Linked DNA regions of Homo sapiens. The protein of the gene in region 1 purifies or fractionates together with the protein of each later gene. This does not show direct contact. Each region holds a gene or a part of one and is shown on either strand. Other genes may lie near its edges.

Region 1 (7,027 bases):
CAGAGGTTGCAGTGAGACATCTCACCACTGTATTCCAGCCTGGGTGACAGAGTGAGAGCTTGTATTAAAAAAAAAAAAAAAAAATATGTGGCAGGGAGGGCAGGGAGGGCAGGGCCTGGCCTGGGGCAGGAGAGGTGATGCTATTGTCATTGACAGTAACTAACATGGTCTGTAAGAGAGACGAAAATTCATGTCGCAGGTGGAGGGACAGCCGTGTGATATGGTGGTAGTTGTAGTCATCGATATTTAATTTTGTCATTAAAAATAAAAAGTAAACCAGGCACAGTGTCTCATGAGTATAGTCCCAGGTGAGTGGATCACCTGAAGTCAGGAGTTCAAGACCAGCCTGGCCAACATGGAGAAACCCCATGTATCTACTAAAAATACAAAAATTAGCTGGGCGTGGTGGCGAGTGCCTGTGATCCCAGCTACTTGGGAGGCTGAGGCAGGAGAACACTTAAACCTGGGAGGCAGAGGTTGCCGTGAGCTGAGATTGCACCACTGCATTCCAGCCTGTGCGACAAGAGCGAAACTCCATCTCAAAAAAAGAAAAAAAAAAAAGTAGCTGAAAATCAATGTTATCAGAAGGTCAGTGGAATGCTTCATCATCACATGTATGTCAGTTTAAGGGGATGACCTAGTCTCTCAGTGCCTGAGTCTCTTTCTTTACGAAGCAGGAAAGAGGATCTGCTCTTACGACCTCATAAAGGGGTCGTGAAAAGGCCAGTGCCAGTGCCCAGGAAATGCTTTTAGCCTTTTGGCAAATGATGTCATTTAGTACAGCATCAACATAACCTTTCCTGGTACAAGCTGGAGTGTCACTCTCAAGCCATTTGTCATGACATCAGGCATGCTTCCATTCCATTTGGGTTTGCTTATTGAAACTCTTCGGGGGGAAAAAAACAGCCTCCCTGAGTGCTGAGAAAATGCCATTCTTCACCTGGGCAGCAGGTGCGTTCCTGAAAGGCTGTGAGTAAATCACATGTTGAGAAAGCAAACTCTTCTGGCCCATGGAGTTATGTCCTAATTCCTGAGGTGCCTCTCTGCTCTCATTGCCATCAAGTAGACAATATTTGACCAAAATTCCTGGAAATATAGGTTGGGTGGAGTGACTTATGCCTGTAATCCCAGAACTTTGGGAGGCCGAGGCAGGAGGATTGCTTGAGCTCAGGAGTTTGAGACCAGCCTGGGTAATAGAGCGAGACCTCGTCTCTGCTAATTAAAAAAAAAAAAAAGCCAAGCATGGTGGCATGCGCCTATAGTCCCAGCTACTCGGGAGGCTGAGGTGGGAGGATCACTTGAGCCTGGGAAGTTGAGGTTGCAGCCCCAGCCTGAGCAACAGAGTGAGACCCTATCTCAAAAAAATAAAAAATTCCTGGAAATATGCAAAAGTCATGGTCCTTCATGGTGGTCCAGAGTCACGTGGAGGTACAAAAGCCCCTCCCCATAGATTCAGAAATGACCTCTTTGGGGTGGGGGGTGAGGGAACAGAGGTGTTGTCTGAGGATGTCATGCTCCAGATGACAGTCTTTTTTTTTTTTTTTGAGATGGAGTCTTGCTGTCTCCCAGGCTGGAGCGCAGTGGCACGATCATGGCTCACTGCAAGCTCCGCCTCCTGGGTTCACGCCATTCTCCTGCCTCAGCCTCCCGAGTAGCTGGGACTACAGGCGCCCGCCACCACGCCCAGCTAAATTTCTGTATTTTTAGTAGAGACAGGGTTTCACCATGTTAGCCAGGATGGTGTCGATCTTCTGACCTCGTGATCTGCCTGCCTCGGCCTCCCAAAGTGCTGGGATTACTGGTGTGAGCCACTTCGCCCGGCACAGATGAGTCTTGTGCTCACCTGCTGTGATCTGCCACACTAAAAGTTGAGTGACTCCAAAGAATCACTTTGCTATAAGAAGTCTTTTTCTTTTCTTTTTTTTTTTTTTTTTTTTTGACGGAGTCTTACTCTGTCATACAGGTAGGAGTACAGTGGCGCCATCTCAGCTCACTGCAACCTCCACCTCGCAGGTTCAAGCGATTCTCCTGCCTCAGCCTCCCACATAGCTGGGATTACAGGCGCTTGCCACCATGCTCAGCTAATTTTTGTATTTTTAGTAGAAACAGGGTTTTGCTACGTTGGCCAGGCTGGTCTCAAACTCCTGACCTCAAGCGACCTGCCCACCTCAGCCTCCCAAAGTGCTGGGACTACAGCCATGAGCCCTGAGCCCAGCTGGAACGGTCTTTTCCTAACCCATGTATTTGCACTTCCTGGTCCTCTTGGGTGCTGGCTGTACCCCAGCTACAGGTTGTGCCGCCCAGGGTGTTCTGGATGGGAACGGAATTCACCAACTGTGTGGCCTCCCTCTGCTTACATGTCCTCCTCCTTGTCTTTCCAGATGTTCAAAGGGCCTGAGAAGGATATAGAGTTTATCTACACGGCCCCCTCCTCGGCAGTGTGTGGGGTCTCGCTGGACGTTGGAGGAAAGAAGGAATATCTCATTGCAGGTGTGTATGAGTGGGGCCATCAGCCGGAGGCTGGCACAGAAGTGGGGCTGTTCCTAGACGCGGTCCAGGGCTCGTTTCCCAGGCTCGGGGGGTGGGGAGGCGGAGTAGCTGAGGAACAGTGAGGCAGGGTACGGAGCCCTCTCGGCCACTTCCCGTCAGAGAATGCTAGTGAATGTTCACTACCTGCCAATTTCCTGGGAAATTTGAGATTGGTGGACAAAAAAAAGGGAGCATTTTTGCCTTTTGTTCCTAAAAGGGAGGCGAGTGCGGGATGCTGGAGACATGCAGGGCAGAGAAACCCTTTCTGCCGTCGGGAGGGCCAAAAGCTCGCGTAACATCTGTGGATACTATGCACGAGACCTGCTTGACTTATTCATTCATCTGTCTCCTTTTTTTATTGTGGTAAAATAATACGTAACAAAATGTAGCCATGTTAATTAACCATTTTCTTTCTTTCTTTCTTTCTTTCTTTCTTTTTTTTTGAGACAGAGTGTCGCTCTGTCGCCCAGGCTGGAGTGCAGTGGTGCGATCTTGGCTTACTGCAACCTCCACCTCCTGGGTTCAAGCGATTCTCCTGCCTCAGCCTCCCGAGTAGTTGGGATTACAGGCACACGCCACCACGCCCAGCTAATTTTTGTATTTTTAGTAGAGATGGGGTTCTACCGTGTTGGTCAGGCTGGTCTCGAACTCCTGACCTCAGGTGATCCACCCACCTCGGCCTCCCAAAGTGGCAGGATTACAGGCGCGAGCCACCGCGCCCGGCCAACCATTTTCAAGTGTACACTTCAGTGGCATTAGATACATTCGCTATTGTGCAACCATCACCACCATCTGTCTCCACATCTTCCCAAACCAAAACTCCGTCCCCGTTAAACACTAACTCCCCCTTCTCTCTTCCTCAGCCTTGGCCCACCTCCATTTTACTTTCTGTCTCTGTGGATTTGACTACTCCAGGGGCCTCACATGGGTGGAACCCTGCAGTGTTTGTCCTCTCTGTCTGGCTTATTTCAGTAGCATCATGTTTTCAAGGTTCGTTCACGTTACAGCATACATCAGAATTTCCTTACTCTTTTTTTTGTTTTTGAGACAGAGTCTCGCTCTATTTCCCAGGCTGGGGTGCAATGGCACTATCTCGGCTCACTGCAACCTCCGCTTCCCAGGTTCAAGCGATTCTCCTGCCTCAGCCTCTCAAGTAGCTGGGATTATAGGCACACGCCACCACACCTGGCTAATTTTTTTTTGTATTTTTAGTACAGACAGGGTTTCACCACGTTGACCAGGCTGGTCTCCAACTTCTGACCTCAGGTGATCCGCCCACCTCAGCCTCCCAAAGTGTTGGGATTACAGGCGTGAGCCACCACACCCGGCCCAAAATGTCCTTACTTTTTAAGGATGAATAATATTTCATTGTATGAATGTAGCACATTTTGTTTATTGTTGCATCTCTTTGTTTATAGTTTTTTGGTTTGTTTTTTTTTTTTTTGAGACAAAGTCTTGCTCTGTTTCCCAGGCTGGAGTGCGATCATGACTCACTGCAACCTCGATCTCCTGGGGTCAAGTGATCCTCTCGCCTCAGCCTCCCAAAGTGCTGAGATCAACTACAGGTGTGTGCCACCACACCCAGCTAATTTTTTTATTTTTTGGTAAAGAAGTCTCACCATGTTGCCCAGGCTGGTCTTGAACTCCGAGGCTCAAGCAATCCTCCTGCCTCAGCCTCCCAAAGTACTGGGATTATAGGCGTGAGCCACTGTGCCCAGCCTATATTTTTATTCCTAAGTAAAATTATTTTCCCTTACTTCCTTCTACGGCCTCCTCTGCTTGCCCAGCTAGGCTGAACCACAGGAGGCCAGGACAGGATTCTCAATCTCAGCACTATTAACATTTGGGGATGGACCATTCTTTGTTGTGGGGGCCTACCTTATGCATTATAGGATATTCAGCTGCATCCCTGGCCCCCACCCTCTACATGCCACAGCACCCGCTCCAGTCGCGGGGTCTCTGGACATTGCCACATGTGCCCAGGGGAGGTGGGGTAGATTGCCCCTGCTTGAGAACCACTGGGCTCAAAGAGCTTTCTGCAGTGATGGAAGCGGTCTCTGCACCATCCAGTCCAGCAGCCCCCAGCCTTGTGGCTCATGAGCACCCGAGATATGGCTAGTGCAGCCGAGGAGCTGCATTTTAAATTTTATTTCATTTCAAGTAATTTTAGTATAAATGTAAACAGCCACATGTGGCCGGCAGCCGCAGTCTAGCATGGCACTGACTCAGCCAGTTAAGGAACATTATTCCCCTCCTCCCTGGGGAAGTAGGAATCTGATCACAAACTTAAGAAAAAAAGAATAGACAAGGCCTGGTGCAGTGGCTCATGGCTGTAATCCCAGCAATGTAGGAGGCTGAGGCGGGCGGATTGCTTGAGGTCAGGAGTTCAAGACCAGCCTTGCCAACATGGTAAAACCCTGTCTGTACTAAAAATACAAAAATTAGCTGGGCGTGGTGGCAAGTGCCTGTAGTCCCAGCTACTCAGGAGGCTGAGGCATGAGAATCATTTGAACCCAGGAGGCAGAGATTGCAGCAAGCTGAGATCACGCCACTGTACTCCAGCCTGGGTGACTGAGCAAGACCCCATCTCACAAAAAAAAAAGAGAAAAGAAAGAAGAGACAAGACAATTCCCCTAGCCTGGTACTATAGTTTGTTCCAAAAGGCAACTGTAATCATAAACATATACTCCAAATCCAAATATCCATGATTGGGGGATTTTCTTCTGGTTTAGGTGACATGTACTTTTTTCCCTTCTAAAAATCAATGTGTGCTTAGTGAGCACCTGTTAGGTGCCCAGCCCCGTGTTAGAGACAATGGGAGATTCCCACGGTGAGATCCTTGGCTCTGGTCATCATGGAGCACACAGATGTTCCGAATGGGGAGACTGGAAAAGAAAGAAAATAGATTTTGCTTGTGGAGAATTGTGAATAGTAAGTGAATGCTTAGAAGGTGCAAAAGGGGCCGGGCGAGGTGGCTCACGCCTGTAATCCTAGCACTTTGGGAGGCCGAGACGGGCAGATCATGAGGTCAGGAGATTGAGACCATCCTGGCTAACACAGTGAAACCCCGTTTCCACTGAAAATACAAAAAAAAAATTAGCCGGGCGTGGTGGCGGGCGCCTGTAGTCCCAGCTACTCAAGAGGCTGAGGCAGGAGAATGGCGTGAACCCGGGAGGCGGAACTTGTAGTGAGCCGAGATCGTGCCACTGCACTCCAGTCTGGGCGACAGAGTGAGACTCCATCTCAAAAAAAAAAAAAAAAAAAGAAGGTACAAAAGGAAGAGAGACTCTCACAGGTCCAAGGGTCTAGACAGACTTGCTGCTGGAAGAAGGTGGTGTCCTTGCCTATGGATGGGGAGGAGGTCATTGCAGGGAGGAAGATGCAGGGCTGTGAGTTGGGCAGGGAAGACTCCTGTTATCTCCCCTTGGGTAAGATCTTCCCTCCCTTCCTTAACATGCTCACAGCTCCTGCTTTGCTGGGTATCTCGGTCATCAAGACTTCTATCCCTCTCCTTGGGGATAATAGGAGACTTCCCCCCCTTTTAAGATGCATTTCTGGACTTCCTAAAATGTTTTATTATGAGCACTTTTCTTATTCTCATTCCAAGACAGAGTCTCCCTCTGTTGCCCAGGCTGGAATGCAGTGGTGTGATCTTGGCTCACAGCAACCTCTGCCTCCTGGGCAATTCTCGTGCCTCAGCCACCCAAGTAGCTGGGATTACAGATGTGTGCCCCCATACCTGGCTAATTTTTGTATTTTTAGTAGATACGGGGTTTCACCATGTTGGCCAGGCTGGTCTTGAACTCCTGACTTCAGGTGATCTGCCCGCCTAGGCCTTCCAAAGTGCTGGGATTACAGGCGTGAGCCACCGCGCCCGGCCTACAATTCAGTGGTTTTAGTATGTCACAGAGTTCTGCAACCATCACTACAGTCAAAAAGAAATCCTGTATTCTTGAGCTATTACCCTCCTGACTCCCCTCCCCCTCCCCCAGCCCTAAGCAGCCACTGGTATACTTCCCGTCTCTATAGATTTCTCTATGCTGGGCTTTCCTGGGAACGGAATCATACGTGTGACCCTGTGTAACCGGCTTCTTTCGTGTTTCCAAGGGTCATCCATGTTACAGTGTGTATCAGAATTTCATTCCTTTCTATGACTGAGTATTCCACTGTATGGATAGACCACGTTTTGTTTATCCGGTCATCATTTGATGTGCATTTGGGTTGTTGCCACCGTTTGGCCATTGTGACAAATACTGCAATGAACATTGGTGTGTGAGATTTTGCAGGGACCTGTTCTCATTTTTCCTGGGTGTATCCCTGGCAGTGGAATTGGTGGGGTCGGGGGTGGGGAGGGGTTGGGTGACTTTAGGTTTAACCATTTGAGGAGCTGGCAGACCGTTTTCCAAAGCAGCTGCACCATTTTACACGCCCAGTATTATCTATGATTTTTACAATAAGAAAAAAAAAATCAAATGGAGAAGGGTAGAGGGACAAAAAC
Region 2 (7,027 bases), on another chromosome or scaffold:
AAGTAAGACTTTTTAAAAAACTTCCTGTTTTGAAATATGTAAGGGTATTTTAACATTAAAAAAAAGGATGGTTGCAATTTCAGAATAAAGATAGGCATTTACATTTTAAAAATGTTTCATGATTACATTTTGTTTTAAAACGTTTTAAAGAATGTGGTAAGAATAAATAGGATTTTGTCTGTGATGATTTTATGTATAATGAGCAGATTGCATTGACACTCTTGTATCTTTTCTGCCATTAACAGAAAAGGCAGCTTGTAAATCTAAAATGATTGAAATCCAAACTCTAAATCATTCAGATTTAACTTTTCTTTTTTTCTTTTTCTTTTTTTTTTTGAGGCAGAGGCTCGCTCTGTTGCCCAGGCTGGAGTGCAGTGGCACAATCTTGGCTTACTGCAGCCTCCTCCTCCCGGGTTCAAGTGATTCTCCTGCCTCAGCCTCCTGGGTAGCTGGGACTATAGGTGTGAGCCACCACGCCCAGCCAGATTTAATTTCATTTATTGCTCCTTTTTGCCGGGTGCAGTGGCTCACACCTGTAATCCCAGCACTTTGGGAGGCCAAAGTGGGCGGATCACCTGAGGTCAGGAGTTCCAGACCAGCCTGGCTAACATAGCAAAACCCCTTCTCTACTGGAAAAAAACACAAAAATTCGCCGGGTGTGGTAGCGCAAGCCTGTATTCCCAGCTACTTGGGAGGCTGAGGCAGGAGAATCGCTTGAACCTGGGTGTTGGAGGTTGCAGTAAGCCAAGATCACGCCATTGCACTCCAGCCTGGGTGACAGAATGAAACTCCAGCCTGGGTGACAGAATGAGACTCCATGTCAAAAAAAAAAAAAAATTTTTTTTTTCATTTATTACCCCCTTTTAAACACACTACCTAAAAAATAGGTAGTGCTCAGCATTTGGAATAGCTATGTATTACTCCCATATATCAAAATTTCATTTGAAAAGTAGATAAAAGTATTTTAAAAGATTCTCTAATTCTGAAAGATTGTCTTTGTAAAGATTAGTGTAATAACTTGTAAATTTTGACTTTTGAGGTGCTTGTGAAGGTATTTATGATTAGACTGTTTAAGAGATGAATAGGGCCGGGTGTGGTGGCTCACGCCTGTAATCCCAGCACTTTGGGAGGCTGAGGTGGGTAGATCACAAGGTCAGGAGTTCGAGACCAGCCTGGCCAATGTGGTGAAACCCTGTCTCTACTAAAAATACAAAAAATAGTTGGGTGTGGTAGCACATACCTGTAGTCCCAGCTACTCGGGTGGCTGAGGCAGAAGAATCGCTTGAACCTGGGAGGCAGAGGTTGCAACGAGCTGAGATCGCGCCACTGCACTTCAGCCTGGGCACCCAAGTGAGACTCCATCTCAAAAAAAAAAAAAAAAAAAAAAGGAGATGAATAGGATAGAATAATTTTTTTTTGCTTGAATTTCTAGTTTACTTACATACATTGTATTCATTGCTCTTTTCTCTTTTCTTTTTTTTTTTAAAGGAGTATGGATGTGTCCAACAGCCAAAAACTCAAGAAAGTAAATTGAAAATTGGTGGTGTGTCTTCAGTTAATGAGAGACCTATTGGTAAGAAATGGAACTGTATAAGTTAGTTACAATTAATTTGCTTATTCTGACTTTTAAAATTGAGGGAAAGCATCTTTTCATGTATGTCTTTCTCTTTCTTTAGAGCTGTGTTTTTTCAAACTGTGAGTAGCTGGTTTTCAGCAGCGTTTTAAAAAATAGAGTAAGATTATATCAGAATATGATATGTGTAGTAAGGAAACATATTGTTTCATAAAACTTCTGTTTCAGTGATTAAATTGTACATACATCCCCACGTTTACAAACATATGTATGTGAGAACTGGGTTATAATATTAAATGTATTTCTTGCGTTGAGTAATGGTTAAAAAAAAATTGAAACCTCTGTTTTAGAGCTCTTATTGCCTCATTAACTGGATTTCAAGATTGGGAATTTGTCCTGAAAAAGAGAGACTGGGCTGGGTTTAGTGGCTAACACCTGTAATCTCAGCAACTTGGGAGGCTGAGGCAGGAGGATCGCTTGAGCTCAGGTGTTTGAGACCAGTCTGGGCAACATACCTTATCTTTGCTAAAAATTAAAAAAAAATTAGCTGGGTGTGGTGGCATGTGCCTGTAGTCCTAGCTACTCAAGAGGCTGAGGCGGGAGGACTGGTTAATCCTGGGAGTTTGAGGCTTCAGTGAGCCTTGATTGCACCACTGCACTCCAGCCTGGGTGACAGTGAGACCGTGTCTCAGAAAAAGAAAAAAGAGAGAGAGAGAGAGAGACTGAGACTGTATATGCATTAGTATTGATACTAAAACTTTTTTTATTTTGTTTTGATAGCCCAGCAGTTGAACCCAGGCTTTCAGCTTTCTTTTGCATCATCTGGCCCAAGTGTGTTGCTTCCTTCAGTTCCAGCTGTTGCTATTAAGGTTTTTTGTTCTGGTTGTAAAAAAATGCTTTATAAGGGCCAAACTGCATATCATAAGACAGGATCTACTCAGCTCTTCTGCTCCACACGATGCATCACCAGACATTCTTCACCTGCCTGCCTGCCACCTCCTCCCAAGAAAACCTGCACAAACTGCTCGAAGTATAAAATTCTTAACATCCCTTTTTACTTTACCTTTTTTTTAGTGTGTATATTGTTTAGTTCAAACATACTGTTGATACTTTAAATCTCTTCAGCATGTATCTGTAGAAATAACTTTTTAGTTAATGGAAGAATTCACCAATTTTAAAGTTTTGCAACATTAAATAAGTGACTTGGTGTTAGAATATTGCCTAAACCAGTTTTCTATCACTTTAAATTTTACTATGGAAAGAAATAACAAATGACATGTGGGAATTGCAGGACTATCCTGTAATTGTAGACACCCACCATTTAAATTTATTTAACAGTTATCTTGAAAGCTATTGGGTATAGCATAAAATAATATCACTCTTTTAATAGTATACAAAAGCTATTTAATTCTTTAAAAAGTAAAAACTCTACATGGTCGCAAAAATGTGTTTATTTCTAATGTCCTTGTGGGGTCATTGTTGCTTTACAATAATGCTTAGATGCAGAGAGAGGAAAAAACAGCAACAAAGTCACATAAATCTTTCCCTGACTTAGTACATTTGAAGGATTTGGCATATTTTGCCTATTTCTGTGGTAGTGTAATTTGAGGAATACAGTGTGTTGTTAATAGTCACTACAGGCAAAAAACAGTAAGAGCTTGCTTTTAAATTGTGGCTCTGTCATTTATCTCTGTGACTTCGGGCTAGATGTTTAACTTTCTAAGCCTCCATTTCTCATCAGTAAATAATAGTTGCTTCCTAGGACTTTAATGAGACAGTGTTAGCAAATGGCCTAGCACATAGCAAGTACTTAAAAAATGGAATCCTGTTATTATTAATAATAAAAATTATATCGTGCGATTATTTATAATTAACATAAATAAATATAATAAATATATGTGTATATAATACATATTACTATGTATACTTAACATATCACTTGTAGGCCCCTATTTTGTCTTTGGCTGTGTTTATCTGCTTTGTGTCTTGACTTAAACTATTTAAAAGTAGATCCTGCTATATGGAAATTTCCAAGTAAAGAGGAGAGAGGATTTTTTTTTTTCTTTGTTGCCCATGGTAGAGTGATCACAGCTCACTGCAGCCTTGAACTCCCCGGGCTCAGATGATCCTCCCACCTCAGCCTTTCAAATAGCTGGGACCACAGGCGCATACCACCATGCCCGACTAATTTTTGTATTTTTTTGTAGAGATGGTTTTGCTATGTTGCCCAGGCTGGTCTCAAACTCCTGGGCTCAAGCAATTAGCCTGCCTCAGCCTCCTAAAGTGCTGGGACTATTGGTGTGAGCCATCACATGTGGCCAGGAGAGAGGAATTTTAAAATATTTATATACTCTAAATTAGTTTGTTGCAAAATACCATTCTAATTAATGCTTTTATGTCATTCTCATGAAACTAATCTGAAAGAGTAAACTTAGTTTTCTATTTTTAGATATTGTTTCAACATACCAAATACCAAAATAAAATTAAATAATTTTAAAGAACATAACACAACTTATACATCCAAATGCCTATTGTTTTCTTAAAAGTAGTCACCCCCGTCAGTGACTTTTTAGCATAAGGTTAGGAGACAGATTCTTATCTTTTCAGCATGCATTTGATTTTTACAAATTTTCAAAGGCTGCTTGATACCTTAATCAGGCCAATATATTAGCTAATTAAATTAAGTCATACTGTTAAAACATGATATTTATAAAATTAAAAGTTAAAAAATAGTCTAAGGGTTTATCTTAAGTTTTATCTTAAAAAAATTAGAAAAATGTTTTGAGCTATGTTATTGTTGGAAGGTGTGGTTTTTCTACGGTAAATGTTACGATATAACACTCATTTGCATGTGTAAGGTTCAGAGTACACTTATAATTTATGTGCACAGATTTTCATTATAAAGTCATTCTCTTTGATTTACATATTTTTACTTGCTATTTTTGTACTTATTATGCCACTGGCAGATTCACCTTATTAAGTGAAACTCTTTATTGCTCTGTTTTCAGTAGAAAAATCACTTTTCAAAATTAATACTTCATCTGTGTATAAGCATATTCTTTTGGTTTCTAAGATTTGCTGTCATATTTTTAAAGTTGAGTTTTAAAGAATTAAAATAATTTTTGTTGTTGTTATTTTCTCATGGTTTACCATTGAATATACCTGTATAATAAAGGTGCAGGATGGGAGGCAGGATAGTGGAATAATTAATTCCATAGACTAGAATCAGATTGCCTGGATTAGTATTTCAGCTTTATTGCCTACTAGCAATATGACTTTGACAAGCTATTTAACCTCTCATTCAGTTTCCTCATCTGTAAAGTGGCAGTTACAGTAATACTTAACCTTATAGTGGTTTGGGGATTTTTTTTTTTTTTTGAGACACGGTCTCACTCTGTCACCCAGGCTGGAGTGCAGTGGCGTGATCCCAGCTCACTGCAGCCTCTACCTCCCGGGCTCAAGCAATCCTCCCACCTCAGCATCCTGAGTAACTGAGACCATGGGCATGAGCCAGCATGCCCTGCTAATTAAAAAATTTTTTTTATAGAGATCGGGTCTTGCTCTGTTGCCCAGGCTGGAGTGCAGTGGCATGATCATGGCTCACTGGAGTCTTGAACTCCCTGGGCTCAAGCAATCCTTCTGCCTTGGCCTTCCAAAGTGCTAGGATTATGGGGGTGAGCCACTGCACTCCATCATTTTTGTGGTATTTAAATTGGGTAATTTGAGTAAAGAGAATAATGCTTGGCACATAGTAATTACTCAACACACTTATTGTAGTATATATTATTGCCATTATTATTTACTTTGTGGCCTGCACTAGTGTTTATAATTAGTGACTATTTCCTTTAGTTTTTATACTTGTCAGAAGAATGGCAATACTTAACCTCTGTTTTACCAGGGTATTGCTATTTGTGCTTATTGCAATAATTAGCTCTTACAAATTGGCTCTAGGAGTCTCACAGAACCACCCAATTATTTTTGTTCTTCCTGTCTCGTTCTTGTTTCCATCTGTCCTCTGATACAAAGCCTTAACAGCCCTTTTGTCATATATCATGCTTATTTTTTGTCTTCTGTTAGCTCATTTGTTTCTCAAAATCTTGCACTTTTAATTTTTAAACATTCATTTATTGTCTTGGCTGGACACGGTGGCTTATGCCTGTAATCCCAACACTTTGGGAGGCTGACGCAGGCGGATCGCGAGGTCAGGAATTTGAGACCAGCGTGGCCAATATGGCGAAACCCCGTCTGTACTAAAAATACAAAAATTAGCCTGGCATGGTGGCACGTGCTGGTGTCCCAGCTACTCGAACCGGAGGCTGAGACAGGAGGATCGCTTGAACCCAGGAGGTGGAGATTGCAGTGAGCCGAGATCGTGACACTGCACTCCAGCCTGGGCAGCAGAGCGAGACTCCGTCTCACAAAAAAAAAAAAAAAAAAGAAAGAAAAAATTCATTTATTGTCTCATTTCAGTTCTACTTTGGGCAGCCTCTGGCTAATGAGAGAACCAGTGTCTTGTGGTCTGGAGTTGTGGGATGGACACTGGTCCCATTGGCTATAGCAGATGAAACTTGGTTGGGGCTGGAAGCCTTCCTATTTTTGTCTTCAGCATCTGGCTGGCCACATATATATATATATATATTTTTTTTTTTTTTTTTTTTTGAGATGGAGTCTAGCTCTGTTGCCAAGGCTGGGGTGCAGTGGCACAATCTCGGCTCACTGCAACCTCCACCTCCCGGGTTCAAGTGATTCTCCTGCCTCAGCCTCCCGAGTAGCTGGGATTACAGGCGCCCACCACCACGCCCATCTAGTTTTTGTATTTTTAGTAGAGACGAGGTTTCACCATGTTGGCCAGGCTGGTCTCGAACTCCTGACCTCATGATCCGCCCACCTCGGCCTCCCAAAGTGATGGGATTACATGCATGAACCACCGCACCTGGCCCTGGCTGGCTATATTTTAAATATAATTCACTCTTGACAAATTTATGAATTAGATATTATAAGCCCCATTTTATACATGAAGAAATTGAGATAGTAATTACATCATTCATTGTCACTCACCTGATAAATAGCAGAACTCATCAAACCCAGGTTTGCAGATTCCTTATCCTTTTTCTACCATACAGTACCTGCCCTTAGTAAGTGTTATTTCACCTCACAAAGAGGAGGAAGTTACAGTTGTGAAGAATACATTTCATTTTTACCTTTGTTATTTATTTTTAGAGACATTTTAAATCCTAAGGATGTGATCACAACTCGCTTTGAGAATTCCTATCCTAGCAAAGATTTCTGCAGCCAATCATGCTTGTCATCTTATGAGCTAAAGAAAAAACCTGTTGTTACCATATATACCAAAAGCATTTCAACTAAGTGCAGTATGTGTCAGAAGAATGCTGATGTAAGTTACATTTTACTTTTATTGGGATTCTGCTGAAAGAGATTTTTTTTTAACTGGCT

Evidence for each region. Proteins that work in one complex are often made in the same cells at the same time.
Region 2: the proteins of TIMP2 (region 1) and ZMYM6 purify together in Homo sapiens (affinity purification with mass spectrometry; 3 studies listed by BioGRID and IntAct, with this or other methods). This does not show direct contact.

What each region holds. Positions count from the first base shown.
Region 1 is NC_000017.11:78,866,361-78,873,387, reverse strand, and holds part of TIMP2 (metalloproteinase inhibitor 2 precursor), read left to right. Parts: intron 1-2,381; coding exon 2,382-2,490; intron 2,491-5,157; exon of another isoform or gene 5,158-5,414; intron 5,415-7,027. UniProt on the Homo sapiens protein: Complexes with metalloproteinases (such as collagenases) and irreversibly inactivates them by binding to their catalytic zinc cofactor. Known to act on MMP-1, MMP-2, MMP-3, MMP-7, MMP-8, MMP-9, MMP-10, MMP-13, MMP-14, MMP-15, MMP-16 and MMP-19.
Region 2 is NC_000001.11:35,014,929-35,021,955, reverse strand, and holds part of ZMYM6 (zinc finger MYM-type protein 6), read left to right. Parts: intron 1-1,488; coding exon 1,489-1,573; intron 1,574-2,353; coding exon 2,354-2,603; intron 2,604-6,793; coding exon 6,794-6,968; intron 6,969-7,027. UniProt on the Homo sapiens protein: Plays a role in the regulation of cell morphology and cytoskeletal organization.